7 linked regions of the Homo sapiens genome follow. The protein of the gene in region 1 purifies or fractionates together with the protein of each later gene. This does not show direct contact. Each region holds a gene or a part of one and is shown in the gene's direction. Other genes may lie near its edges. The genes, in order: ZUP1, KRT4, TIMP3, FNBP1, IPO5, POLE2 and FRYL.

Region 1 (4,476 bases):
AGGTGAAGAAGATGGAATTAACAGGATTTAGGTATGGTGCGTGAAGGAGAGGTTGATATTAAAAATGTATGAGATAGCAATATAAAGGTGATAATGACTGCTTCTGAATCTCTTTTCTACTTTAGGAATTATTGAAGCACTTCATAGGTATTATCAGAATGCTGCCACAGATGTGAGACGGGTGTGGCTTTCTTCAGTGGTGGATCACTTTCATTCATCTTTAGGCGACAAAGGTTGGGGTTGTGGTTACAGAAATTTCCAAATGCTACTTTCATCATTATTACAAAATGATGCTTACAACGATTGCTTAAAAGGTATGTGAAATCTAGTACTCTGAACTTGTCATCTGATAAAATACATATGATATAGAATGATATAGCATACACAATTAATAGCTTTAACAGTTAGTGGATATTTATATAAGAAACCTGAATTCTGGTTAGAGGAAGAGAAAATGATAGAAGATGTCAGGAATAACTGTCTTAAAAACCGTAAAGTTCCCCGAGTACATAATACACTGCTAAATATTATTCAGTACTTTATTAACAGTCATGTAACATGTTTGCTTGTGTAATTTTAGGTATGTTGATTCCTTGCATTCCAAAAATTCAATCTATGATTGAAGATGCATGGAAGGAAGGTTTTGATCCTCAGGGGGCCTCTCAACTTAATAACAGGTTACAGGGAACAAAGGCCTGGATTGGAGCATGTGAAGTATATATACTCCTGACCTCCCTAAGGGTAAAGTATGTACCTTAAAACCTAAATAAATGTTATTTCCTTATCGGGGAGCTTTGTTTTGTAAAATTTTATTTTTTAGCAAAGAGATAGTTTAAAAATAAAATTAAGTAGCACTAAATTAAGTAGCAATGAAAATCAGCAGCCTATTCACTATCTTGTGCTCTTCTCTACCCTCAAGTTCTGTCTCTCAGAGGCAACTGTCACTTCCATTGTTTTTAAATGGTATGCTTTCATAGCTGTTTCTTGGTTTATGAGTTTCAGATAGTCTGTTTTAATATCTTATACCTGTTTACCTTCAATCCTTCTGATATGATTAAATCTTGGTTTTTATTAAAATCAGAGTTTACATCATTTTATAAAGTCAGATTTTATTATACAATTGTGTAAATATTGCTTGTTGCTGATTTTTTCTAAAATCATTTATAATTTTTCTTGAGTTAATAATTGTGTTTCCTTTTCTCTTTTACTATAATATGTGACGACATCATGGCCTCAAGTTTTTGCACTCTACCTGTCATGTAATCTGAGGCTCTCCTTATTCTCGGACACATCCTTCTTGAGCATTCTGTCCTCTTTGCTCCAATCTGGACTTTTTGCCTTCTAGATCTACAGCTATTGTCATGTAGCATTTTTTCACTGTTTTGTGTGTGTGTGTGTGTGTGTAGTCTCATTTTTAAAATGTATAACCTATTTATTTTCTGTGGAAGTTATTCCAACCTTCTCTTAGCCCATCATAATTTCACGATATTATGAAATTTCACCATGGGGTGTGGGGCTTTGATTCATTGTGTTGGGCATTTGTTTTTCTCTTTGAATCTGGAATTGTGAGTTGTCTAAGATCTTAGTTCCATCTAGGATAGTAGGTAAGAGCTTGAACTTTGGAGCGAGACTGCCTAACCTTGATTCATAGCTTTCCTACTTAATAGCTGAATGAATGAACTTGTCTGTACTTAGGTCTACTATTGATAAAAGAAGGTATTAATAGTAGTTAGACAATTAAATGGGATAATAAAGTACTTAGAACTGTGACTGGCATACAGCATGACTTCAGAGGTTAACTATTGTTGTTTGATAATTATAATGTCTCTGTTTTCTTTGTGGAACTATTGATAGTTGGCCACTGAACTAATCTTTTTTTTTTTTTTTTTTTTTTTGAGACGGAGTTTTTGCTGTGTTGCCCAGGCTGGAGTGCAGTGGCGTGATCTTGGCTCACTGCAAGCTCCGCCTCCTGGGTTCAAGCGATTCCCCTGCCTCAGCCTCCCTAGTAGCTGGGATTACAGGCTTCCGCTACCACGCCTGGCTAATTTTTGTATTTTTAGTGGAGACGAGGTTTCACCATGTTGGCCAGGCTGGTCTCAACTCTTGACCACAGGTGATCCACCCGCCTCGGCTTCCCGAAGTGCTAGGATTACAGGCTTGAGCCACGGCGCCCGGCCTGCTTCTTTACCTTCTAAGTTTATCATGTCTCTTTTTTAAAAATCTTTGCTTTTTCTCTATTTTCTAGATTTACTCAACTTTATCCCCCAATTACTGTATTGAAATTTTTATTTTACCCATTATGTTAAGGGGTAATTTCATAGCATCATTTTCTTTATGGTTGCAAAATTTCTTCCAATGTTTTCTTTCTATTGCCTGCATTTTGTTTGTTCGATATTAGTATTTTTTCATATCTGTTTGTTTTAGTCTTTTCTATTTTGAAGGCTTTCTTTTAATTTTGGAAATCCTTAGTTGTCCATTCAGAGAGTGAAGAATGAAACATTAAAAAGCTGATTAGAGTGCTGTAGGACTGCACAGAGCTTGCAGATTAGCAGACTTATTTAAAAGTCTTAGGTGGAAGGCGGAAGGTTACTATTTGGTTGGGGAACTCTCAAATATCGTTATATAGAGAGATCTTTTCCCAGAAGTTATCCAGAGAAGAGTTTTTCACTCTCTTACCTAGAGTTCCTACATTAGTGGAGGGGAGAGTTAAGGTGTGATTTGCCTTCTAAGCAAACTTTTAATTAATCTCATATTTTTAGCCTCACTGTTCTCAAACCTTATGCTTCTAAGCTTTCAGCCTCTCTCTGATTTTGAAACATACGGTCTCCATTTTCTTTTATTTACTTTTATATGTTCTCTGTGGTGCTTTCCATTTTCTGAAGATGTGAGCTCTTTTCCTGTCTATTCCCATTCTCTTTGTCCTTGGGTGTTTAAATCATTTTTTCCTTCAGTATTATGTCATTGGGTTTTTAAGAGGAAATAGAGATAGATGTCTGTGATCGTGTTTAATGGAATGTTTGCGTTAAGCTTTATGGCTTTATATTTTCTTTTATGTTTGTTTCTAAGTTATTTAACCAGTGTATCACATTCTTTTTACCACATTGATTGATTAGATTCAGAAATAAAAATATTTCTTTCATTAACATAGAAAAACTAATGTTGTGTGTATGTATAATAACTTTCTTGAATTATTTAAAGAACTATTTTAATGCCCTCTAAATTTATTCCTGCTTTTCTCCTTTTTCTTTTTGCCAATGTGTTCACACTTTGAGATTATTTATACTCTATCATGTTTTGAGTTTTAAAGTAATTTTTTTCTTTTTCTTTTTCTTTTTTTTTTTTTGAGACAGAGTCTGTCTCCAGTCTGTCACCCAGACCAGAGTGCAGTGGCGCGATCTTGGCTCACTGCAACCCCTGCCTCCCAGGCTTAAGTGATTCTTGTGCCTTTGCCTCCTGAGTAGCTGGGATTACAGGCATGTGCCACCATGCCTGGCTAATTTTTTTTTTTCTGCATTTTTAGTAGAGATGGGGTTTCGCCATGTTGTCCAGGCTGGTCTTGAACTCCTAGGCTCAAGCGATCCACCCGCCTTGGCCTCTCAAAGTACTGGGATCACAGGCGTGAGCCACTGCACCCAGCCGTAATTTTTGTCCAGCTTCTTTCTTGGTACCTTAAATAATTTAGAAAGCTTTTTTATTAATATATCCTGAGTGTGTTTAGTAGTTATTTACATGTCTTTCTGTTGCTCTCTCTATGAGTTATATCCTGTAGGGTACTGTTTAATTAGTATTCTAAATGTAAATATGCAAACTGCTAACCCCAAAACATTCTTTTTAAACGGTTTATCCAGAAGTTTATTTGAGCACTTAAAACCCAGTAACCAACTGTAAGTTACCAGCATTAAATTTGCTGAGGCTGAGGTTAGCAATTCGGATGTTTTAGAGATTTTATTGCCAAGAGAAACAAGAACAGGATATCTGTGCTGTAGTTTAAAGTGATGATAAAGCTATCAAATGCTTTTAGTTATACCCGACCTTTTAAAAACAGTTGTTGAGTAGTATAAACAGTGTTTCTGGTTAAAAAAATGTTTATTCAAGGGTGACTTCCTCTTGAAGGAAGAATACCACGGTGGTCCGGTGGCAAATAGGAGATAGATGTATAGATTGAGTACACACACATTTTTCTATGATTTACAAGTATTTTCTGTTATAGAGATTTGAGAGACCGACAGGAAAAGTATTTAGGATCTATTTTATATATACCAATGGCTACTGAGGAATTAAAATCAGAAATCAGCTTCTGATCATCAGGGTTAGAAACTAGAATAAAAGCTGTGAAAAAATTATGTGTAGATGACTTTTTAAAAATCAAGTATGGTCATTATTTACTATTCATGGAGATTTTATATATCAGAGAATGTTTGTAACCTTTAGGTTAGTCAGCAGACTTATTATGAAGTTATTTAAATAGTTAGCTAG
Region 2 (3,510 bases), on another chromosome or scaffold:
GGTTGGGATTCACAGTTTTTTGAAAGGACTCCAGCTCCCTTATTTTAGGGCAGTGGGTTCTCATCAAGGTCATGCATAGAAAGGTTTGAAGTGGGAAATTCAACTGGGAGATTCTTAGAACCAGATGTGGTCTTGGTCTTAGACGGGGTGATTAGATCTAAAGAGTGCTTGGAATAGAATTCATTGCTGTCTAGCATTTTTTTTCTGGTGAAATGGATCCATTCCCTTCCCTTCCATTCCAACACACCGGCACTCACTGCATTAGAGTGGCTTATGGTTCCTGGGGACCAGTAAAGACTAGAAGCATTGCTCTTCCATCCTGAACTGTCACAACCACTTGATTTCTCCTTAGAACTTTACCTGTCTCTCCCCTTCCTACACATTGTGAATGCCAGCTCTGCTCCTACTTGAGCCTGTATCAGGTCAGTGAAGGCTTTCCTGGGGGGGCTGATGTGAGACATTTGCCCTGCAGGAGCTGTCCCAGATGCAGACCCATGTCAGCGACACGTCCGTGGTCCTTTCCATGGACAACAACCGCAACCTGGACCTGGACAGCATTATTGCCGAGGTCCGTGCCCAGTACGAGGAGATTGCCCAGAGGAGCAAGGCTGAGGCTGAAGCCCTGTACCAGACCAAGGTGGGTGGTATGGATCTCTCAGGAGATGGGGCTGGCTCTGGGGCTCTGCTTTTGATGTCTGTGAACAGGTGATCATTAGCTCAAGCCCAATAGAAGTCAGATATGAACAGACTCTCCCAGGCATCGTTGGTCCTGGTCTGATTTGAAACTACTTGACATTTGGTGCTATTCTTGCCACCTGTGGCAATTCTCACTGAGTTCACTTGAGAATGGACCCTACCCAAATGCCCCTAACACCTGGTTCTCTGTGTCTTCTTGAGTCTTAGGTCCAGCAGCTCCAGATCTCGGTTGACCAACATGGTGACAACCTGAAGAACACCAAGAGTGAAATTGCAGAGCTCAACAGGATGATCCAGAGGCTGCGGGCAGAGATCGAGAACATCAAGAAGCAGGTGGGTGTCACTCCCTTCCAGATGGAGCACAAGGCCAGGGGCCTCAGGCAGACATCTCCAGAGTGGACAAGCAGATAAAGCATCAGGCCAGAAGACCCTGAGCTTGTTGCTGGGAATTCATAGCTCTTTGTGCAAGGCATACCCAGATTTTTTCAGCAATATCCTAGTTGGCACACCATGACGCTCCTGTGCATAGGTTTCTTGGCTCTTCTTCATGGGTTTTTGCTCATTTTTATTTAATCAGTCTGGTGGAGGCATTGGTGGGCTATGGCTGGAGTGAATGAGATGCATAAGTCTCAGGGAAAGTGGGCAGAACAGATAGAATCTTGACATCCTAACCCAAGGAAAGCTGGACCAGGGGAGGGGACAGGTGTAGAGGCCTTGAAGGCAGGGCACTGCTGACCACCTATCTAATGCCTTTGTCAATAGTGCCAGACTCTTCAGGTATCCGTGGCTGATGCAGAGCAGCGAGGTGAGAATGCCCTTAAAGATGCCCACAGCAAGCGCGTAGAGCTGGAGGCTGCCCTGCAGCAGGCCAAGGAGGAGCTGGCACGAATGCTGCGTGAGTACCAGGAGCTCATGAGTGTGAAGCTGGCCTTGGACATCGAGATCGCCACCTACCGCAAACTGCTGGAGGGCGAGGAGTACAGGTGAGGGGTTAGGCAGGGTGTGAACATGAGGGCCAGAGAGGTCCAGGGCCATGAGCTTATTTATGCCTCTGCCGGGCTGCAAGCATCAGTGTTGTGCCGGTGCATTACGAACCAGGACAGCTCAGCTAATAGGTTCACACTGGGCCCTCAAACTCAGAGGCTGCTCAAGGATAAGAGAGGTGAGTGAGGCATGCTTATTGAACAAAATTCTGTGCTCCCTGAGGCTCACCGCCTTTTCTTTCCCCTACAGAATGTCTGGAGAATGCCAGAGTGCCGTGAGCATCTGTAAGTACCTTCCACGCCTGCTGTAGTTGTTCATTCACCCGGGTCTTGCCAGACCCCTGGGGTGCTGGCAGCATTGGAATAACTGTGTCTTTTGTGTCTTTTCTGCAGCTGTGGTCAGCGGTAGCACCAGCACTGGAGGCATCAGCGGAGGATTAGGAAGTGGCTCCGGGTTTGGCCTGAGTAGTGGCTTTGGCTCCGGCTCTGGAAGTGGCTTTGGGTTTGGTGGCAGTGTCTCTGGCAGTTCCAGCAGCAAGATCATCTCTACCACCACCCTGAACAAGAGACGATAGAGGAGACGAGGTCCCTGCAGCTCACTGTGTCCAGCTGGGCCCAGCACTGGTGTCTCTGTGCTTCCTTCACTTCACCTCCATCCTCTGTCTCTGGGGCTCATCTTACTAGTATCCCCTCCACTATCCCATGGGCTCTCTCTGCCCCAGGATGATCTTCTGTGCTGGGACAGGGACTCTGCCTCTTGGAGTTTGGTAGCTACTTCTTGATTTGGGCCTGGTGACCCACCTGGAATGGGAAGGATGTCAGCTGACCTCTCACCTCCCATGGACAGAGAAGAAAATGACCAGGAGTGTCATCTCCAGAATTATTGGGGTCACATATGTCCCTTCCCAGTCCAATGCCATCTCCCACTAGATCCTGTATTATCCATCTACATCAGAACCAAACTACTTCTCCAACACCCGGCAGCACTTGGCCCTGCAAGCTTAGGATGAGAACCACTTAGTGTCCCATTCTACTCCTCTCATTCCCTCTTATCCATCTGCAGGTGAATCTTCAATAAAATGCTTTTGTCATTCATTCTGAGCAATGGTCTTTTTTCCCTGGGGAGAGGTCTCTAGAATCCTGTATAACTAGATAATTTTGGTGAAGGTGTATGCTTGCGGGTGTGAAGGATCTGTTTATACAGATCTGGGTCATCGACTAGTTTCTCAGGTCTCTACTTCTAAGTTACTCAAATTATTGGGGGAGAAGTACAGTGTACAGAGGCTGAAGGTTGCCTACAGGGCAGTTGTACAGATTGAAGGGGCATCCAACAATTATACACACATTGTCCATTGTAGGGCACCCTGGGGTAGCACCATTTCAATGCTGATCCTGGAATAAACCTGGAGGGAAGGGGTTTAAGTCTGCAGGTGGGGGGCATTTGATAGGTGTGAGAGAAGCAGGCCAGGGGTCTCTGCTGAATATAGAGCAAGAAGTTATGGAGCTTATGAGAGTGCTTATACTCTGTGTCTAGCAAGGCCTCCCTATTTTCATGAAATTCCATGCATGGGGCTAAATCTCACTGGCCCAACAAGGCTTTCAGGAACCTGTTCCAAGAATCAACAAGGTCACGGTTGTTGGAGGGAGGTGTGCATGTGTGTCATTCTCCTAGAGTTTTCATGAGCTGCTCACTTCCCCAGCTCCTCAGGGGTGCCTGGGGTTATGTCTGTGGTGCTGTCCCTGAGTGGCGAAGAATGTTGGAGGTGGAGCAGGTCTTCTGGAGCAGGAGTGGAGGGAGCTGTCTAATTACAGAAGCGGGGAGAGGACAGTC
Region 3 (4,476 bases), on another chromosome or scaffold:
AACTTACATTAACTCATTTAATTCTCTCAGTTTTATGAGGGAGGTGTGCTATTGTCATCTCCATTTTACAGCTGAGGAAACTGAGGCTTAGAAAAATGAGGTAACTCGTTTAAGGTTATACTGCTAGCAAGGAATACAGCCTGTATTTAAGCCCCTTCACCCTGGCTCTAAAATATATTTAACAACTATACTATAGGTCACATTATACCATATCATATTATATATACTACTACATACTCTTATATTATTATAATTATATAATATGCATTTTCAATTTTAATAGTTCCTGCCAATTTGGCCTCCACAGTGGCTGTGTTAACACAGTTCTTTTCATATATGCAACATGAGGGGATGGAGGAATGTTAGAGCCCTGTGCTTAAGAGACTCCCATGCTTCTCTCAAATAGAAAAACAATTTATAATTTTTATTGACTTACTGAGTGTTTTTTTTCCTTCTTTTTGTCTCTTTGAAAGGGAGCAAAATTAGGGCCACGAAGATCAAGTTAATGGGAGTATTTTCATAGGGAGAGGAAGGCTGCAATGCCAGGAAAGCTGTGACCCTTGACTTGTTGCATGCTGGAGTAATTCGGTTGAAGATAGCTTTATGTATTTATTTTGCTTTCAGAATAAGCAGTGGACCATTTATTACACCAAGTTGTTTGACTTTGAGGACTTACATGGACTCAGGTTCAAAGGTATATGTGGCTGTGTTTTGAACACACATACACAGGGTTTTGCTTTCTGACTCAAAGCTGTCCGCTGGCCAGGCTCATGGTGGCAGCAAGGGCACTCACTCATCTGTCTCCCTTCTTGTTGCCTATGGATGGCACTTGGGTGAGAGCAGTGGGATGGTCACAAGGAGGAGGATGGACTGCCGAGAGGGAGGCTGGGTGGACCCCAGCCAAGAAGGACGCTGGGGTCTCATTATTATGGGAGCTAGAAGGCCTGGTTTAGGAAAGAATTCCTGTTCTGATGAAAGCTCTTCAGTGGACTCTTAGGATAAAGTATCATCAAATGGCTTTTACAAGGGCCAGTGTGGACCCTGCCTACCTCATCCTCATAGTCTCATCACTGGTCTGTCCTGCTCCAGCTGTTCATACTCTGTCTCTCTGGCTCTTGGCCCATGACACCCCCTCGGTTTTGAACAGTCCTCATTAACTTCTCATTCTCTAGGTCTCCTTTGGTTCCTTTCCCTGATCACTCCTTGGCATTGGTACAGACGAACAGTCATAAACCTTGCCCATATTTTAAGCATGCTGAAAAACACCATCTCTAGTAAAACCCAAATTCTCCAAAGCTGCATGGGAAACTCCCAGAGGGGATCATTCCTGCGCTGGGAGAAAGAACTTAGGGCTGCGTGCCACCCAGAGGGATAAACCTAACCCACTTTAGAGGGTAAGCACCCACTATGCTCTCTGCATTACTTGATAAGTCTAGTCCTGTCTTCTGGTGGACATGATACCCTAGCACCCTCCCAGAGAAGAAAGTGGAGATTTCTAAATGCCAACCCTGCAGGAGATCACAAACATAATACTGTAATTTTCATAGTAAGTTTGGTGCCCTTACTATGTGCCAGGCACTGTACCAAGCTCCTTACTTGCCTATCAGTCATCCCAGCTGCCTGATGAGCTGTCTCAGGCTAGGGAAGCCAAATGGCTTGCCCAAGCTCACACCACTTGCAACCTATACTTGCTTAGCCTATCTCCAAAACCTGTGTTTCCAATCAGTCTCTCATATAGACCAAGGGCTACAACTTTTTAGACTTGGGAAGATTCTACCCATTTTGCGACCTCTCCACATGAGTCTTTGGCTCCCCACTGTTGGGGTCCCCGTCAGTCTGCTTATCTTTGGTTTTCTTCCTCTCCAGACATGCCTTCCCTGCTGCCCCCAAATTTTATTACTGTATAGTCAGTTCTGGGATCCTAACATAACCAAGCCTTACCTCCTAACCCAGTGCCCTTTCAACTCTCTCAGTGGTTCCCAGACTTTTCAACACTATGGAATTTTTTAAAATTAATTTTTCCCTCCAATAAGTTCTGTGTTTGGAACAGTTATCCGACACAATTTCATGTGTTGAGTGTTGATTAACTTTCCATTAAAAAACAAATTAAAATATAACTAGAACTGCTGATACTAGCCAGTCATTATTCTGACACAATCAGCTAATATACTAATTAATTATAGCCGAAAGCAAGGACGGTTGGTGTTTTCATAAGCCTGGGAAGTTTTCTCATGGGTTCCTGGGTGATTGCATTGTCGGATTTGGGTTGGCTTACTGATATGCCTAAAATAGCTCCTGGCTTCTTTGGTATATCGCTGTCCTTTGCCCCTCCTGAGAATCTTTAGTTTCATGCCAGCTTAGCATCTCTTCTCCCTGTGGGCAGGTCCCATGCATTTACTGCCATTGTCACTTCTCCCTGTTACCCACAGTGCTGCCACCATGCCTGGGATAGACAGCAGGTAACTGATGTGTCCTAGTTGAGGTCCCTATCCTTTCAGAGGAGGTGACATGGGTTCAGATATTTTCCTATGTTCATGTCTGGCATCCAGGGGTACACAAAGTATTGATTCTAGCTAAAGGGACTTACTAAATACTGTTTGACAGGAGGCCCACAGGTGTCTATGTGGGCTGCAGTGGAACTAAGAGGTCTTTTTGTTCAGCTGTTAAAAAATTAGTGTTTGTAGCTTCAGAGGGGCCCCAGAGAACCTTTCCTGACCCATTTAGAGGCCATCTGTGTGGCTAGGATGGCTTTGCTGTCACAGAAGGGACAGTCCACACTACCCAACACTCAAGTCTGATTTATGTTCATGTAAATCCGATCACCTAATGGTGGCATTCACGGCTTGGAGACAAGAAACTATAAGTGTTTCCAAGCCTGCAGCCACCTGGCTTTTTGTGGGGGTGGGGAAGGGAAGGAAAGCTGTACGATCTGGCCTCAGAGAGCCCAAGGTAAAGTTCAGTTAGTGGAAAAACAGAGCCCTAGATGATTGGGCGGGGGGTGGGTACTGGGGAGTGGAGAGGGGAAGTCCTGAGCTGACCAAGCCTCCAAGAGCCATTCCGGAACTAGAGATCTTAAATACTACATGGTAATTATCCCCTCTGCCTCTGCCCATGAGGGTGTCAGGCACAGGGCCGCCTGGCTGCCTGCAGAGAAGAGCTGTTTCATTCAGAAACTTCAGAGCTCCTGCAATGCCTGGATTAGGATGTGGGGATGGTGAGTTTCGCAACCAGGGTCAGATTTCATGAAGACTTGGTTTCGTGACTTGAGGTGTTTGACTAAGGTGTTTGCATCTCATGTATTTAGGAAGGGCTCCCTTTTGACTTAGACTTTATCATCATGAATAAGCTCCCTGCCTTTTCGATTTGGAAACATGATAGCTCTAGTGAGCTCTGCTACTCCCAAGCTTGGGCAGGTTCTTTGCCTCAGTTTCCTCATCTCTAAAATGGGGGGAAATATATTATGTACCACGTGGTAACTTCATTGGCAATTAAGTGAAATACTTCATGGAATGTTTAGCACTAAATATTCCTTAGTGTTGAAAAGGCTGGGAACCACTGAGACAGTTGAAAGGGCACTGGGTTAGGAGGTAAGGCTTGGTTATGTTAGGATCCCAGAACTGACTATACGGTAATAAAATTTGGGGGCAGCAGGGAAGGCATGTCTGGAGAGGAAGAAAATCAAAGATAAGCAGACTGAGGGGGGCCCCAAAAGTGGGGAGCCAAAGACTCAGGTGGAGAGGTCGCAAAATGGGTAGAATCTTCCCAAGTCTAAAAAGTTGTAGCCCTTAGTCTATACAAGAGACTGATTCTTGGCACAGAATAGCTCAATAAGAATAAGCATGAGCTTTTAGTAGTAGTGTTGTTATAGAGCAGAGCTGATATTCTCACTTCACTTTCGGTGAGGAAAATGGCGCTCTGTGGTGTGATGTGATGTTTTCCAGGGTCATATAGAGAGAGCTGAGTTTCAATTCAAAATCGTGGTTTGATCCCCCCGCCTCCAAATCTAATGTGTTCCATTTTGTCACAGTGCTTCCCACAGGGCAGAGAAAGAAACAACAAAGTTCCTACTCTATTTTCACAACTCTTCACATTTTAGAGTCTTAAGTCCATTTGATCTCATTTGATGACAACTTCGCAACGAGGAAAGCAGGATGGTGATTGGGGGGTCGGTCATAGTTCCTAGTTAGTGGATGTCAGTATTGAGAATGGCGGGGTTCTGTGGCTTAGCCATATAGCCAATACATGGAATGGGATTGGAACCCATGTCTTCTGAGGGCAAGCCCAACACTTGTCAAGGATCTGGTGCTGCCCTTCCCTCTTTAGACAGCTCCCATTGATAAGCAGAGGTAGAAGTCACTAGGGTAGCCAAAGAGAGGGCCCTAGAAATGGAATGGTGACAATGAACTTGGCTGAAGAGTCAGCAACCGCTCCCCTATCCACTGCCAGGGCTAGGAGGTGCAGTGTGGCATGGAGGAG
Region 4 (4,476 bases), on another chromosome or scaffold:
ATTCTCCCGCCTCAGCCTCCCGAGTAGCTGGGACTACAGGCGCCTGCCACCGCGCCCGGCTAATTTTTTGTATTTTTAGTAGAGATGGGGTTTCACCTTGTTAGCCAGGATGGTCTCGATCTCCTGACCTTGTGATCCGCCTGCCTCGGCCTCCCAAAGTGTTGGGATTACAGGCGTGAGCCACTGCGCCCGGCCTACTGCTCCTTTTTCTTAACCCTTCAGAGATTTCTGTTTGGGATGAACATGGCAAGACCAACAGGGGAGATAATACTCCCTGAACCATGGTGGGTAGGGCAGAACTGCTTCAGAAGAGAAACAAAATCAACTTAGTTTTGCCATCCTTACTTCTCCATGAGAACAAATTTTGCACATGTCTTTTCTGTTTAGTGGATATTAAAAGAAAACAAACCGTGGGAGGCCTGGAGATTTTGCAGTTGATATTTAGATATCAGTTTTGTTGCCCTCACTTTGTACATTAGACAGAATCCTGAAAATTTGTGTAAATTGCCATTTTGGTAGGCAAAACTGTACTTTAAGCACATAAAAGAGTTTTATAAGTGTCTATACTTACTATGTGAACACATTACAACTCATGCTTTACATTGGTGAGACATGGAAAGTGCTTCTTTGAAGGACTATTCAAGTATCACCCACTAAGCAGCTAAAGCTAATATTATGTTTCCTGCAAGTATTACTCATACTTGTTTCATCAACACCACCCACATTTAAAAATAAGGCTTTATTTTGACACTTAAAAATTGAAAGCTACTAAGAATACATGAATGCCCTGGGAAATTAATCTAATTAGATTTTAGAATGTGGGTGTGAAGTCTTCTGGAATTAGTGTTTATAAAGGAATATTTGTTTCCTGTTTTACTTGTACACTCATACTAGCTTGAGCCTAGTAATGTGTTTAGTTAAAAAAACTTTTTTTTTTAATGATGAGGCCAAATATGTGTATTATATTAGAGAGTAATTTGGGGGTATGTAAGTTTTTGTTTGTTTGTTTTTTGAGATGGAGTTTCGCTCTTGTCGCCCAGGCTGGAGTGCAATGGCACGATCTCAGCTCACTGCAACCTCCACCTCCCGGGTTCAAGCGATTCTCCTGCCTCAGCCTCCCGAGTAGCTGGGATTACAGGCGTGTGCCACCACGCCTGGCTAATTTTGTGTTTTTAGTAGAAATGGGATTTCACCATGTTGGCCAGGCTGGTCTCAAACTCCTGACCTCAGGTGATCCACCCGCCTTGGCCTCCCAAAGTGCTGGGATTACAGGCATGAGCCACCGTGCCTGACCTCTCTATTATCTTAAAGTCTCGAATGATTGTTATCATTACTGCCATTTATTGAGTGCCTACTATGCCCCAGGTGCTGGACAAAGTGTTTACATCCATCATCTTGTTTATTTGTTACAAGAATCCAGCAAGGTAACTACCATTTGTGCCAATATCCTGGAAGAAGAGGCTTAGATGGAGTCATTAGTACAGTTTTACTGGGGAGTAACACCTGTGAAGGGGAAAGAGTGGAAGCCATCAGATCACGATGCAGACCTGACAGAGTCCCCACCAGGCCAATGGGGAGCTCCAGAGCAGACACAAGAATCCTCTGGCAGAAATGGCTCGGCCTCTGTATCTCTGCCTTCCTTTATCATTGGCCAGAGGTCGTCCCAAGAAGAGGATGGCCTTGGCTGCCAGCTTGCTTAGTCATTGGCTGGGGGTGCTACAAGAAGAGATGCCCTCGACTCAAAAGATGAGGTGGACCCTAAAGGAGGCTGCATGCTAGCCACAGTCCTTGCAGCTGGGCAGCGAGTCATTTTTTGCCACTTCTCCATGTTGCCCAGGCTGGGGTGCAGTGGCACGATCTCGACTCACTGCAACCTCTGCCTCTTAGGTTCAAGTGATTCTCCTGCCTCAGCCTCCCAAGTAGCTGGGATTACAGGCACATGTCACCACACTCTGCTAATTTTTGTATTTTTTTTGTAGAGACGGGGTCTTTCTATGCTGCCCAGGCTGGCCTTGAACTCCTGGGCTCAAGTGATCCTTCCACCTTGGCCTCCCAAAGAGCTGGGATTACAGGCATTAGCCACTTGGCCAAAAACTGGATCTTCTGTGTTAGTAGTGCACAGTTCCCTTTATCCCCACCACTCACTCATATTTCCCCATCACTGCAGTAGATTTTGCTTTATAAAACAGTTGATGTTATTCATATTGAGAATCACTGAGAATCAATGACTCACACCACTAAATGCTGCAGAGCCAGCAGAAACAGTCATGAATGAAGCTCGTACTCAAGCAGATGCTTCATAGATGTCTAGTAATCTCCTAATCCTTTCAAAGCCAGTTATTGTTTCTCTTTTCTAATTTAAATAAATTTGTGTGGATATTAATTAGTAGGAGTAGTATCAAGTTTCTGAATTTGCCCAACAGAAGTATGTCTTGGCGAAAACTATTTTTAAGGAAATTGAGAAAGAACAAGGAGGAATACAGAGTCTCACTCTGTTGACCAGGCTGGAGTGCAGTGGCACAAACATGGCTCGCTGCAGCCTCAATCTCCTGGGCCCAAATGAGCCTTTCGCCTCAGCCTCCTGATTAGCTGGGACCACAGGTGTACACTACCACGCCTGACCAACTTGTTTTTTTTTTTTTTTTTGAGATGGAGTCTTGCTCTGTCGCCCAGGCTGGAGTGCAGTGGTGTGATCTCAGCTCACTGCAATCTCCGCCTCCCGAGTTCAAGCGATCCTCCTGCTTCAACCTCCCGAGTAGCTGGGAGTACAGGCGTTTGCCCGGCTAATTTTTTGTATTTTTAGTAGAGACGGGGTTTCACAGTGTTAGCCAGGATGGTCTCGATCTCCTGACCTCGTGATCTACCTGCCTTGGCCTCCCAAAGTGCTGGGATTACAGGTGTGAGCCACCGCAGCTGGCCTGTCTAACTTTTTTTTTTTTTTTTGAGACAGAGTCTTGTTCTGTCACCCAGGCTGGAGTGCGGTGGCGCAATCTCTGCTCACTGCAAGCTCTGCCTCCCAGGTTCATGCCATTCTCCTGCCTCAGCCTCCCGAGTAGCTGGGACTACAGGCACCCGCCACCATGACTGGCTAATTTTTTTTTTTTTTTTTTTTGTATTTTTAGTAGAGGCGGGGTTACCATGTTAGTCACTGTGTTAGCCAGGCTGGTCTCACTCTCCTGACCTCGTGATCCGCCCGCCTCGGCCTCCCAAAATTCTGTGATTACAGGCGTGAGCCACCGTGCCCAGCCCGGCCTGGCTAACTTTTTTAAAAAAGTTTTTTTTGTAGAGGTGGGGGGGTCTTCCTGTGTTGCCCAGGCTGGACTTGAACTTTTGACCTCAAGTGATCACCGGCCTCGGCCTCCCAAAGTGCTGGGATTACAGGCGTGAGCCACCATGCCTGGCCGACATTCAGGGTTTTAAAGTTTTGAGTCTTCAGGAACAAGAAACGAAACACTTTCTCTATTATCTATAGCAGAAGAAAACTTGGGACCTGTAAAGGAATCTCCTCCCCTTGTACTTCTATTTGCACAGCCAAAATTGAGAACGGGTTCCTGAAATCCATTTAAAGACCAGACAGGCTCTGGGGACAAACGGTGTGGGTGCTCCCAGTTGAGTGAGGCAGTGCTGGAGGGCTCAGCCTGGGTTGCCTTGCTTACCTAATCTAATATTTATTAGTATCGGGCAAGTCCTTGCATCTCTGTTCCTCGCTTTCCCAATCTATAAAGTATGGTATGATGCTTGCCTTTCTCTTGACAAGAAGGCATAAAGGTGAGAGATTGTTCGTAAAGTACTTTGAGGTTGTTGGATGAAAGGTGATAGGTAAACACAAATTATTATAATCATGGGGAAGGTTAATGAAAAAAACTCTGGTCCCTGGGAACAAACTGTAGAACTCTCCTGCGGTAAGCAGGATTCATGAAAAATGAGCTATTTTCTGTCCTAGCCTTCTGATTTAAAATTTGGTGTACATGTTAACAATACAATAAACCTAATATTTGGAAAATGCCTGGAAATCGTTGCTTTGGACAGGAAATCTGGATTTCAGGAGGTCATATTAATAGCATGTTTATCTTTTCCTCCTTGAAGAAAAATAAAATCCACTCCAAAACACTAATCATACTAATTTTTAGCAGTATACTTGGGCCTTCTTAAGATTTAAGTTTTTTCTAGGGGGAATTAATTTTCTTTGGCTATTATTACCACTTTAAAAAAAAAAAAGTTCCACTGAAGTCACATTATTTCCTCACCTAAAAAGCTGGATATTTGCTGCTTGAAACATCTAATGAATTATTCTGCCTATCAGCTTAGTTTGGGATTGATTTCTTCTTGGCAGAGATAATGAAGAGGTTTAGAAGTATTTGCATTGGAACAGATATGGAAATTTCTGGAAATGTTTGGGCAAGGACATTTAGATTTCATAAGTGTATATGTGTATGTAAAATATATTCTTCACCATGACTGACTTTTAAAATTTAC
Region 5 (3,537 bases), on another chromosome or scaffold:
TTCTGGAGGACTGTGGACTGAGTGCATAGCACAGCTCAGTCCTGAGCAGCAGGCCGCCATTCAGGAGCTCCTGAACTCTGCGTGAAGGGCCTTAATGTCACCCACCAGAAAACTAACTCCAAATAAACGCTTACCCTTTCCTTTAGGTTTCTTTGTTTTGTTTTTGAGCAAAAGAGATCGGTAGTGTTGTGTGTAGGCCATTCTTCTGGAGAGCCACAAGCAGGAAGAGCAGCGCTGTGTTGCAGAATGGAGTTTCCATGGATTTCTACCAGACCACTGAAGGAGTTCCTGGAAGCCCTGCGGTAGCTAGCACTGAAGACTATTTTTCTATTGGTATAACCCGCCCACCTGAAGGGGAAAGGGAAATCAAATTAATTTTTCTCGTTAGACATAAGGAAATTTAAGGAAAAACAGCTTTAAGAACAGTTACTCAGCGTAGATGTGTGTTCACACAAATTGCTCTGCATTCAGTGTTCATTGTGAATTGGGAGTGTGAGTCTTTCTGTAGGGTAGAAAGAAGCCTCCTACCCAGCAAACCAGTAGACCCAAAAGTTGAAAAAAACTGATGACAGACAACAAGCATGAAGATGGCATATTTGATGTCACTTTGGTTCTTTTTCCCAGAAGGCTTATACAGTGACTCAGTCGGGAAGCTTTCCAGCTTCCAGCCCTTGAATGTGAAGTGTCATTGGCATGTCTGGCAGTAGTCTCTCATTCACTCCTCAATAAACAACATTGAATACAAAAGAGGCTTGTGTAAAAACTCAGTACTGTCTGGCTTGGATTCATTTCATGTTTTTAATATAAGAATGATCTAATATTTTTTTAAAGTAATAGCTATCAGTAATAGCTGAGTGTTTTTTCCCCTAATATTTTCCTTGTGCAATTCAGACTTAAGCATCGAGTTTTTACCATCTTCCACTTTAAGCTAAGTTATGATACCTATTCCATTCACAATTGGTGTTCTTTTTAAGGTTTGCAAATTTCAGCCAATTTTGTAGCTAAGATTGTTCTGATCAGCTCAAAAAGATTTGGCTTAGTGTTTTCATTGCAAATTATAATTGCTGTAGAGCCACACACAACTTTTGAACTTTTAATTATAAGTGTTATGGCTAAAGTTATTTACTGAAAATTTCAGTAAAATGTGTGAATGTTTCTTTATGTATTAACCTCATAGCAGTAAATGACTTGCTGTTGTTTAATTTTTCTAAGGCATCTTAATAGACTTCTGTTGAAAACTTCAGTGTTAACATTTTTATAGTTTGTACTAAATTTAACCGTGATATAAAAATGAATTTTATGCATAGATCAGAATTTTAAATTAAAGGTTTTTTCTTTAAATGATTTGTATTACTTTATTAAAACTAAATCTGAAATGGAATAGAAAATAGAATGGATTACATACAGATGGTTTCCTTGTTAGCAGATGCCCTTCAAATATATTTTACGTTTGCAGCACAACACCATTGCCCGGAGGCTTCCGAATCTAGCAAAGCAGCATATTAAATGACTCCACCTGCGCAGTCCTTGTGTTCAGTGGATGAATACCTGTGGGCTCTTGTAATGTGTGGTAATATTTGGAGCTTTATAGCCTGTATTCCTTGGGAGAAAAAAATGGGAATTGGAGTAAAAAGTGTGTCAAGACAACCCCTTTCTGCTTTCTTATGTAGCATCTGCAAAGCCGATTCATGTACTGATGCCAATCAGCTAGAGCAATGTAGGCTTTTTTTAATTTAAATTATTACTACACTTTATTACTACACTTGCAGAAAAGAAACATGTTAAAATCATGGCACACCTGCAGAATTTCAGATGACAGTGTGGTCAGAAGATGTTTTTTGGGAGAACCTAGTGTTTGCTGGGCACTATGCTAAGCACTTTGGGAGCAAGAACCTCCTACCTTCCAGTTTAAACACTAGTGGTATTGTCAGATGCCGTTAGTATCTGAGATGTACTTACAGCAGGGTTCTAAGAGCTCTGAAAGAAGCGCTCTGTTAGATGCAGACTGGCAGCATCCTCCTTGATAAAAGCAGAAAAGCAAAGAGGTAATTGGAGTTGAATCAAGTTAATAGGGAAGGTTGGTAGTAAATGCTGTTAGTGTGACATGATTCTGAAACCCAGAGCTCAGAACTAACTGTGAGATGTACCATGAACTAACAATTCTTTGAAAGGACCTGCAGAAGCATTTTTAATACCTCATTCTGTCTATGCAAGATGAAAATCCATGGAGTTTTTTCTTGGCTTTTGTACCAAATTTAGGGGTCTTGCATGTCAGCAAGTGATATATATTGTTTATAAATGCAAGCTATTTCTGGAGGGGAAAAATGTGTGTGGCTCTTACGTTTTCTGGGAATTTTGTAACAAGTTACACGCACAAGTGTTAGAAACTTTGGCATAACTCAATTTGGAGTATTTTTTAAATGCTGTATCTTTAAAGAAAAGTAAAATTGTCTTAAATCTAATTGACACTTCTGTAATGAGAGGCAACCTTATAACTCTGGAGTTGTAGTTTGACAGAACCATCAGTAAAGACATAAGCAAATAAATGGTCTTGGTGCACCTGGTCTGATAATAAATAAGGGGGGTGCTTACTTACAGTCTTGCAAGCATTATATTTTTATGATCTAATCTTTTGAGTGAGTGCCTGTTTAAGCAACGTGAAAGGCTAAGGAGCTAGCTAAATGTTTTAATAACTGCTTCATTCTGCCTAGGAGGATTGTTGGGTCAGTTTTCTCTGCTGCACAGAAATCACTTTGCAGGTCGGGCGCGGTGGCTCACGCCTGTAATCCCAGCACTTTGGGAGGCCAAGGCAGGCGGATCACCTGAGGTCAGGAGTTGGAGACCAGCCTGGCCAACATGGTGAAACCACATCTCTACTAAAAATACAAAAAGTAGCCAGGTGTGGTGGCAGGCACCTGTAATCATAGCTACTCCAGAGGCCGAGGCAGGAGAATCACTTGAACCTGGGAGGCAGAGGTTGCAGTGAGCCGAGATTGTGCCATTGCACTCCAGCCTGGGCAACTGGGTGAGACTCCATCTCAAATAAAAATAAAAAAAAAAAAACGAAATCACTTTGCTTCTCTTAACCTTCTTTGCCACAAAAGATTAACAGCCAAAACCTGCCATGTTTGCTATTCCTAAGCAGATTTTCTTTCTCGGCCCTAAAAGTATGAGTACCACTATTAGAAGAAGAAAGTGAATGATCCACAATGTATGCACATCACACTTGGGAGGAAGCATGAATATTTATTTCCAGCACTTGGAACTTCTGAATGGTGGTGCTGAGGAGCAGGGGTTAATTCTAACAACATCCTGCCCTAGACTTAAACCCTTTTTTCCCCACACAGCTGTAACCCTTACAGTGTATGCCAGACAACATTTGGGCTGATTATTTCTATGTATTTATTATATTTGGATGAATACAAACATTTTAAAGATAAATTATAGCTATATTATTCACTTCTCAATGAATCCAAAAGTGGTACAATATAATTTTTTGTAAAACATTACAAAAAATTTTTTCTAAATTCCACTAAG
Region 6 (4,476 bases), on another chromosome or scaffold:
TCCCTGACAATAGTTGTCAATCACAGGTTACATACACCCCCATTTGAGAAGTACGGAAATAGATGTTACAGAGCATTTTTATTATTCATTTTATAATATTTAAAGTTTATGGACCAGGTGCAGTGGCTTATGCCTGTAATCCCAGCACTTTGGGTGGCTTGCTTGAGGCCAGGAGTTTGAGACCAGCCTGGGCAGCATAATGATGTATATGTTATTAAATGAAAACTCATAGATTTTTTTTCCTAAAATACAGAATAGTTTATTTCACTTTTAAATTAGTGTCTCCCAAAGCTCTGTGAGTCAAAGCTTTCCTAGTTTCTCAAATTTTCTGGTTCCTTTTGGTAATTAATATTTAATTTGAAATTATTTGTTTAGCTATTTTCACTTTTGCAAATGAACTGAAGTTTGCTTTGTTTTGTGCTCTTTTGTAGTTTGTAAAGACTATCTTATCCCAAGGACATCTGACTCCCCTACCTCTTTATGTCTGCCCAGTGTATTGGGCATATGACTATGCTTTGAGAGTGTATCCTGTGCCCGATCTACTTGTCATTGCAGACAAATATGATCCTTTCACTACGACAAATACCGAATGCCTCTGCATAAACCCTGTAAGAATGTAGTTAATCTTATATAGTCATTATTTATCAAGATTAGAGTGCATTTTTTAATTTAAAAATATATATTTAATAAGATTATTGTCGAAGTAAAAATATGCTATTAGTGAAACACTGAATTAAGTTTCTATACACAGAAAGTTGGTATACACAGAAAGTTCTTAAACTTTCAGTATAGTGACTATAAAGTAACATGACTTAAAAAACAAAAAAACAAGCATACCCACAAGCATACCAAAACATAAATCCAAAAGAGTAATTTTCTCCTCTTCAGAACTTATCTTGGGATTCCTTTCTGGGAATTGCTTCAGAGCCTGCATATTGGTGGTACTTGTCCTTTGAGAATGATTTTGATTTTTGGAAATTGCACAGGTCCCAAAAATCTAAGCCTGATTAATATAGAAACCTCATTGGTACATATTTTATTACTTAATTTTATGTAGAACCTTGAAATTGCTTCAGAATCTTGAGGTTGCTTCAGAATTTCTGCAGAAATATAATTGACTTTTAGGCCAGGTATGGTGGCTCACACCTGTAATCCCAGCACTTTGGGAGGCCGAGGTGGGTGGATCACGAGGTCAGGAGTTCAAGACCAGCCTGACCAACATGGTGAAACCCCGTCTCTACTAAAAATTACAATAATTAGCTGGGCGTGGTGGTGCGCGCCTGTAATCCCACCTACTTGGGAGGCTGAGGCAGGAGAATTGCTTGAACCAGGGAGGCAGAGGTTGCAGTGAGCGGAGATCACGCCATTGCACTCCAGCCTGGGCGACAGAGCGAGACTCCATCTCAAAAAAAAAGAAAAGAAATATAGGCCGGGTGTGGTGGCTCACGCCTGTAATCCCAGCACTTTGGGAGGCCAAGGCGGGCAGATCACGAGGTCAGGAGATCGAGACCATCCTGGCTAACATGGTGCAACCCCGTCTCTACTAAAAACACAAAAAATTAGCTGGGCGAGGTGGCGGGCGCCTCTAGTCCCAGCTACTCGGGAGGCTGAGGTAGGAGAATGGCGTGAACCCGGGAGACAGAGCTTGTAGTGAGCCAAGATCGCGCCACTGCACTCCAGCCTGGGCAGCTGAGCGAGACTGCGTCTCAAAAAAAAAAAAAAAAAAAAAAAAAAAGGGAAAGAAATATAATTGACTTTTTGAACTTGGAGAATAAATACTGCATAAACAATGACATAAACACAGTTATGTCAAACAAAATATTATCTCCACTAGAGATTTTTAATATGCATGCTTCCTTGATTCTTGTGAATTTTAGACTTTACTAATTTTTTGTTTCATCTGAGTAATTTCTAGAAACATCATGCCTTATTTTTGGCATGATGCTGGGCCTGTAATCCCAGCACTTTGGGAGGCCGAGGCAGGAAGATGGCTTGAGTCCAGGAGTTCACAACCAGCATGGGCAACATAGAAAGGGCCTGTCTCTACTTTGCTTTCCTCAAACACACAGTTTGTCCAGCTTCTTCTAAGACATGGCTTATCGGCCTTGGCACTTTTGACATTTTGGACCAAGTAATTTTTGGTGGTGGGGGCTATCCTGTGCATTGTAAGCTGTTTAGCAGCATCCCTGGCCTCTGTCCACTAAATGCCAGTAGTATTCCCCAGCTGTAACAATCAGAAATGTCTCCAGACACTGGCCAAATGTCCCCCTGAGGGACAAAGGAACCCTGGTTAAGAGCCTCTGCTTTAAGAATGAACACAGTTAACTGATTTGGTTTTATTGCTTAGAAATTTATGACCTGATTTTTATTCACATTGAAATAGTCTTTCATGGTGATGCTATTTCCTTACTTAAACTTTGGGCATTCTCCTAGTTAATGCTCTATTTGAATATACCTTATTTCTGAATTTTTCTACTTTTTCATCCCTGTGAGTAAACCACCACCTCCTACACCATCATTATATCTTTTTTACCTTATTTATACCTTTTGGGCAAGCTCAAAACTAGCCTTAGACATTACTTCATCCTTTCTTGATATTTATTCACATTAACGAATGCCTGCCATAGGCTAGGTGTTGGGTTCGGTGCTTGGGGCACAAAGACTGAAAAGACAGGGCCTCTGCTCAGCCACGTGAGAGTTTCATAGTAGACAAACAATTGTATGTGTGATTATTGCTCAGTTGCTTTACAGGCACATAGGAAGGGAATCAAACAGGTACATAGGAATGCAAATCAGTTTTGCATTAGAGAGAGGGGCAGGAAAGACTTCTTGAACTTGCTGATTGTCTCACATGCATATTTGGCGTTACACAGTCTGTTTATTTTTTACACTAAGTAGAGCTCCTCCTAAGCATTTCCAACCTCATCTTTTAGCATTAAGACTGTCTAGCCAACTCAAAAGACTTTTGCTTCAAGTGGAGATATTTTATAGTAACAACTCTGTAAAAAGATCGTGTAAAAATCTGTTGTGTTACTTTATAGTCACATCTTGTCATTTTAAGTCACAACCAAGGACTTTTAAAAAACAGGAATTATTTTATAAAACTTGAGTATTCGGCTGGGCACGGTGGCTCATGCCTGTAATCCCAGCACTCTGAGAGGCCGAGGTGAGCAGATCACCTGTGCCCAAGAGTTCAAGACTAGCCTGGGCAACACAGTGAAACCCTGTCCCTCTTTACAAAAAATACAAAAATTAGCTAGGCGTGGTGGCCCATGCCTGTGGTCCCAGCTACCTGGGAGGCTGAGATGGGAAGATCGCTTGAATCCCGGAAATGGAGGTTGCAGTGAGATTGCCCCACTGCACTCCAGCCTGGGTGATGAGAGTGAGACCATGTCTCAAAAAAAAAATAAATAAATAAAATAAAAAATAAAAAATATACATATTGTGTTTAAAAAAATTTATTTTAAAAAAAAGTCTGAGCATTCACTTACAGGCATTTTTCTCCCCCAAAGGGCTCTTTTCCAAGAAGTGGATTTTCATTCAAAGTTTTTTATCCTTCTAATAAGACAGTAGAAGATAGGTAAGTGTGTGCACAGACACAGCAAGAAAGATCTTTCTCTAGGTGTTAAATTACTGAAAATGAGATGTTCTATCAGTGTGTTGGGATTTTTGAAAATGTCTACAGTGGCCCATAAAGAAATATTATTGGCTGAGCTTATCACGGTTATGCTGTGTGACACAGAATTGTGGGTACATGATGGTACGTTTGTGTTGAAATAGATCAAGAACTGTTTTCTGGGGGAAATCTCAGGCCAGCTGTGGAGGTGAGCTAGTTCTCTTACAGGCCAACTCCTGACGATGGTCTCACTCTTCTGAGAGGTCAGTCCTGCCCTCCGTATGGTTGCTTCTTAGGTACTTTCCCTTAAATTGACAGTGAGGGAGCTGTGTGTGAGTTTGGTGATGGTATGGGGTTGGAGTTACGGAAAGGTCTTGAGAAAGAAGAAAATAATCACCTAGTGGGTAGTAGTTTTCACAGGGTGATCTACATAGATCACCCACATCAGAATCCTCTGGGGTCCTTGTTAAAAATGTTAAGTTAGGATTTTGCCCCAGACTCATCAAATGACTTTCTAATTGTAAAGAATAGGCATTTTAAATATTATTTCCTGTAATTTCAGGCATCCTAACATGTGATTTCTCAGATAACTGTATTTTGAAAAAGTTCCCACCACTGGTTAAGAACAAGTGCCCAGGCAGGGCACGGTGGCTCATGCCTGTAATCCCAGGACTTTGGGAGGCCGAGGTGTGTGGATCACGAGCTCAGGAGTTTGAGACCAGCCTGACCAACATGGTGAAACCCCGTCTTTATTAAAAATACAAAAATTACCCGGGTGTGGTGGCGTGTGCCTGTAATCCCAGCTACTCAGGAGAAGGAGGCTAAGGCAGGAGAATTGCTTGAACCTGAGAGGTACAGGT
Region 7 (4,476 bases), on another chromosome or scaffold:
ATGTAATGTTATTTATTTCTAGGAATTGGAGCTCTGCCGAAGATTATACAAATTGCATTTTCAATTGCTGCTTCTGTTCCAGGCCTACTGTAAACTTATCAACCAAGTAAATACGATAAAAAATGAAGCAGAGGTAAATATTCAGTTGTATTAGGCATCAGTAACTGATTCTAAAAAAATTTTAAAATAAAATCTATTACTTGTTAAAATAGCTTAAGTCAAAAGTCACTTAGAGTGAGTCTTTTTTCTTTTAGTTAAGGAATAATTTGTTTTTTAATGATGTGCTATGTCAGGACCTATGAGTAAATAAGACAGCAGATATCCAGCAGTTGTAAAAGGTTCAAGACCTTAAAGGTTTCCATAGTAGACACAGATCATCTATAATCAAAAGTCAAGTAAAAGCCAGGGATGGTGGCACATACCTATAGTCCTAGTTACTCGAGAGTCTGAGCTGGGATGATGACTTGAGCCCAGGAGTTAGAAGCTGTAGTGAGCTGTGATTGCAGCACTGCACTCCAGCATAGGTGACAGAGCAAGACCCTGTCTCAGAAAATCAAAATAGTCAAACAAAGCACATCAGTTCAATAAAGACATAAAACTGTATCATCAACCCCCCTCCCTCAACATGTTGTTCGTATTTCTATAGCTTTTTTTTTTTTTTTTTTTTTTTGAGGCAGAGTCTCCTTCTTTTGCCCAGGCTGCGGTGCAATGGCATGATCTCAACTCACTGCAACTTCCACCTCCTGGGTTCAAGCAGTTCTCCTGCCTCAGCCTCCCAAGCAGCTGGGACTACCAGTGTGCACCACCACACCCAGCTAACCTTTTTGTATTTTTAGTAGAGACGGGGTTTCACCATGTTGGCCAGGCTGGTCTCAAACTCCTGACCTCAGGTGACCCACTGCCTTGGCCTGCCAAAGTGCTGGGATTACAGGCATAAGCCACCGTGCCCAGCCCACATTGTTACAGTTTTATTAGTGCACACAAGAAAAAACATGTTAAAAAACACTTTGAATGTTGAAAATCAATACATAGCCTCAAAGATGCTAACTTTAGTCTTTTCCCCCCCTTGTCATCTGCTGGTAATAAAACTATCACTGGGGAAATGATTTAATTTCTTAGTCATTAAATCTGTAAAAAGAAATATACATGTATTTATTTTTTATATAAAAATACCCTGGGGTAAATAATCTTTTAAAATCTAAAGACTTTACTGTTATATAGTTTTCATGATCCCCCATAACAGTAAATGTACTTTTACTATCCAAAATGTAGTAATATTAAAACCAATATAGACATTTATTACAACTTGTTGCTTTATCAAGAACATTTAATTTCAAGACTACTATTTGGTGGAATTTATTTGCTCCTACAGAATGGAGTACTTGAAATATTAACTGCCCTTTCTTCCAAGACAAACATTTTAAAATAATCTTTAAGAGCAACAATGCTACTGCCATCAGGTATATTCTTGTAGCCAACTAAATGTTTTTGTTACCAAACATACGAATAGATCCTTAAAGATGTATTTGTTTTAGGTCATCAACATGTCAGAGGAACTTGCCCAACTGGAAAGTATCCTCAAAGAAGCTGAGTCCGCTTCCGAAAACGAAGAAATTGACATTTCCAAAGCTGCACAAACTACTATAGAAACTGCCATTCATTCTTTAATTGAAACTTTGAAAAATAAAGAATTTATATCAGCTGTAGCACAAGTCAAAGCTTTCAGGTAAAACGTGACGGGATTTAAAGGTGATGCCTTTAAATTAGACAGGAAGTTTAGTAATACTAGGTTTTCATTTTCAATTTGCTGTTTCCATATCATGTCTTTGTGAAAGAAAAACATGAGTATTTTTAACAGTTGCCACTGAAATGATACCAATTTTAGATTTCTTTTCACTTTCAGATGGTACTTTGAAAGTGAATTCAGGTGGTACTTTGAGTAATATTTGCTCAAATATTAAAACAGATCATGTTATTCACAAGGAAATGTTGTTGTTACAGGTATTTAACTTAAATTGAGTTAGTCTTAACTATTGCCTAAGTCTCAGAACTGAAAAACTATTGTGTATTTTCAGATCTCTCTGGCCCAGTGATATCTTTGGCAGTTGTGAAGATGACCCTGTACAGACACTGTTACATATATATTTCCATCATCAGACGCTGGGCCAGACAGGAAGCTTTGCAGTTATAGGCTCTAACCTGGACATGTCAGAAGCCAACTACAAACTGATGGAACTTAATCTGGAAATAAGAGAGTCTCTACGCATGGTGCAATCATACCAACTTCTAGCACAGGCCAAACCAATGGGAAATATGGTGAGCACTGGATTCTGAGACACTTCAGGCCTTTAGGAAAGAAACTAAACTGAAGATGATGAAGAATATTAACCAAGCACCTTTTATGGACCCTTGCATTCACTGATAACTTTCTGGCAGCATCTACTTTTTAGTGTAACTAATGTCAAACTGTATCATCAAAAACAAAGATCTGAAAGAAAAAAACATCTGATATTTTAACAGCTGCCAATATCTCCCACAATAACTGCGTGAAGAAGGAATTTTTTAATTACTTAACCTACGTGAAAAGAAAAGGGCTAAAAGTGATGCCTACAAATACATTACTTTCTGGGGAAAGAAAAGAATTCCAAGAATGTTTGCAATAATGGCCTCCAATACTGAAACAACCAAAAGCAGGTGAAATGAGGCTGAAATCAAGGCTGTTTCATTTTAGCTGAAGACCTGCAAAGCTGCTTGGATTTCTAGCAGTTGAAAACCTAACCTGCAATTGATGCTTAATCATCCATCCACATGAACATGCAGTCAGCTATACGCATCAAGACTCGTTTGCAAAAACCATTGATTTTTCAGTATGTGGGATAAGGGTTTGGGTTTTTTTGTTTTTTGGTCTGTATAAGGAATTATGTGTGTGTGAGTTGGGATGTATGGATATGTGATAGTCATATTTTCAAGGTATGGATGTTTGGTGATAACGTCTCAGAGCATGCCTAAAAGAGCACTGCAAGATTATTTTTGAAGAAATGTTATTTTATTAGATCTAACTCTTCATAGTATGTAAATGTTAGAACATTTTAATAATATTTTAAAACTGGGCTTTCCCAGTATTTCAAAAAGAAATAATATATCTGTTAACGTTATTGGAATGCTGCTCAGTTCTCTGATCAGTGCTTATGTTATGATTGTTGATAACTAACCAAAGTAGATGCCTGCAGAGACTTTAAAATGTAAAATAAAGATGTATGCTGCCTGTCAGCTATTCTCATTAGAAAAGTTTTAACTTATTTTACTCCATATAGAAACTGTAGAGACTAAAACCAGTTATTTTCTTGTACATTTGTGCCATGCACTGTTGTTATACAAGAATAGGTGTACAAAGCTAAAGAAAAATTGTGGTCATTGATGATGGAATATATGACTTGCAGGCTTTGAAGTCTGCAGAATTCAAGAAAAGAGCTGCAAATGCATTTTTGTATCTTTATTCAGGACTCACATGCTTTACCCTAAAGAAACCTGGGGCTAGGGGAAATGAAAGGAAGCCTGAAGACTGACTACCAAAACATGCAATATACTTATTCACTGTCTAAGTCTGTAGTATAACATGAACTGGAGTCTCTATCCTTTTCTAAAATCGCATTTTGTAAGAAAAGAAAGAAAAAAAAAAAAAAAGAATGTAGTCCCACAACTCCTGATTTGAAAGAAACACCTTGTATTTTTTATATACATCTCTTATCCACTGTGACTTTTCTTTTAAACTGGGCTCTGTGATTCCAGAGTTTAGAATGTAGAAATGAAATGCTTAGCTTTACCTTTTCTTGGGGGGTGTGGACCCTGCCAGAAATGTAATTACGTATGCTCAAGTGCATTAATTGAAGGCACTGTGCACACCATTGGACTGCTGACCACAGTTAAACATTTCCAGTAAAATTTCGTAACTGGTCACAGCTCATTCATAATCACTGTATTTTTTGACCCTGATAAAGACAATTATTTTGATGGTGTTCTGGTACTGTAATTGGTATCCTTTAAATTATTTAAAACTTTTGGGTGTGGGGCAGGCAGAGAGGGATGGTGTCCAGAGATACATCACACTTTACATCCTATCTTACTGTCCTCTGTTTTTCTTACCCTCCTTACATCCTTTTTGTTAAAAATAAAAAGCATTGTAGCTGTTGGTTTGTGTTGTATTTTAACAAAGAATGAATGATTACAGTGTGCATCATTTAGAAACCTTTCAAATGTTACCTTCTTGAATTGCCCTAGAAAAGAACAAAATTAGTTGACTACCCAACCAAACCTTTCAGTTGATATTTGCTTTTTGTGTTTATTTATATGTAACTAAGTCTATTAATATAATAAAAATGAATATACCTGCAGCAAGCAAGATGCAAACAAATTCATTAGGATGGCCTTCTGCAACAGCATTTTCCTCCAACCTACACTTCTCTGCTCCTCAGCCTC

The links.
Region 2: the proteins of ZUP1 (region 1) and KRT4 purify together in Homo sapiens (affinity purification with mass spectrometry, with the first as the bait; one large-scale study listed by BioGRID). This does not show direct contact.
Region 3: the proteins of ZUP1 (region 1) and TIMP3 purify together in Homo sapiens (affinity purification with mass spectrometry, with the first as the bait; one large-scale study listed by BioGRID). This does not show direct contact.
Region 4: the proteins of ZUP1 (region 1) and FNBP1 purify together in Homo sapiens (affinity purification with mass spectrometry, with the first as the bait; one large-scale study listed by BioGRID). This does not show direct contact.
Region 5: the proteins of ZUP1 (region 1) and IPO5 purify together in Homo sapiens (affinity purification with mass spectrometry, with the first as the bait; one large-scale study listed by BioGRID). This does not show direct contact.
Region 6: the proteins of ZUP1 (region 1) and POLE2 purify together in Homo sapiens (affinity purification with mass spectrometry, with the first as the bait; one large-scale study listed by BioGRID). This does not show direct contact.
Region 7: the proteins of ZUP1 (region 1) and FRYL purify together in Homo sapiens (affinity purification with mass spectrometry, with the first as the bait; one large-scale study listed by BioGRID). This does not show direct contact.

The regions. Positions count from the first base shown.
Region 1 is NC_000006.12:116,647,842-116,652,317, reverse strand, and holds part of ZUP1 (zinc finger-containing ubiquitin peptidase 1), read left to right. Parts: intron 1-125; coding exon 126-314; intron 315-580; coding exon 581-746; intron 747-4,476. UniProt on the Homo sapiens protein: Deubiquitinase with endodeubiquitinase activity that specifically interacts with and cleaves 'Lys-63'-linked long polyubiquitin chains. Shows only weak activity against 'Lys-11' and 'Lys-48'-linked chains.
Region 2 is NC_000012.12:52,805,813-52,809,322, reverse strand, and holds the end of KRT4 (keratin, type II cytoskeletal 4), read left to right. Parts: intron 1-472; coding exon 473-637; intron 638-903; coding exon 904-1,029; intron 1,030-1,458; coding exon 1,459-1,679; intron 1,680-1,929; coding exon 1,930-1,964; intron 1,965-2,072; coding exon 2,073-2,254; 3' UTR 2,255-2,774; downstream 2,775-3,510.
Region 3 is NC_000022.11:32,807,532-32,812,007, forward strand, and holds part of TIMP3 (metalloproteinase inhibitor 3 precursor), read left to right. Parts: intron 1-3,784; exon of another isoform or gene 3,785-4,476.
Region 4 is NC_000009.12:130,032,483-130,036,958, reverse strand, and holds part of FNBP1 (formin-binding protein 1), read left to right. Parts: intron 1-4,476. UniProt on the Homo sapiens protein: May act as a link between RND2 signaling and regulation of the actin cytoskeleton. Required to coordinate membrane tubulation with reorganization of the actin cytoskeleton during the late stage of clathrin-mediated endocytosis.
Region 5 is NC_000013.11:98,021,738-98,025,274, forward strand, and holds the end of IPO5 (importin-5), read left to right. Parts: coding exon 1-85; 3' UTR 86-2,559; downstream 2,560-3,537. UniProt on the Homo sapiens protein: Functions in nuclear protein import as nuclear transport receptor. Serves as receptor for nuclear localization signals (NLS) in cargo substrates.
Region 6 is NC_000014.9:49,646,397-49,650,872, reverse strand, and holds part of POLE2 (DNA polymerase epsilon subunit 2), read left to right. Parts: intron 1-431; coding exon 432-608; coding exon of another isoform or gene 609-620; exon of another isoform or gene 621-726; intron 727-3,512; coding exon 3,513-3,580; intron 3,581-3,780; exon of another isoform or gene 3,781-4,303; intron 4,304-4,476. UniProt on the Homo sapiens protein: Accessory component of the DNA polymerase epsilon complex. Participates in DNA repair and in chromosomal DNA replication.
Region 7 is NC_000004.12:48,497,280-48,501,755, reverse strand, and holds the end of FRYL (protein furry homolog-like), read left to right. Parts: intron 1-22; coding exon 23-133; intron 134-1,535; coding exon 1,536-1,726; intron 1,727-2,075; coding exon 2,076-2,334; 3' UTR 2,335-4,399; downstream 4,400-4,476. UniProt on the Homo sapiens protein: Plays a key role in maintaining the integrity of polarized cell extensions during morphogenesis, regulates the actin cytoskeleton and plays a key role in patterning sensory neuron dendritic fields by promoting avoidance between homologous dendrites as well as by limiting dendritic branching.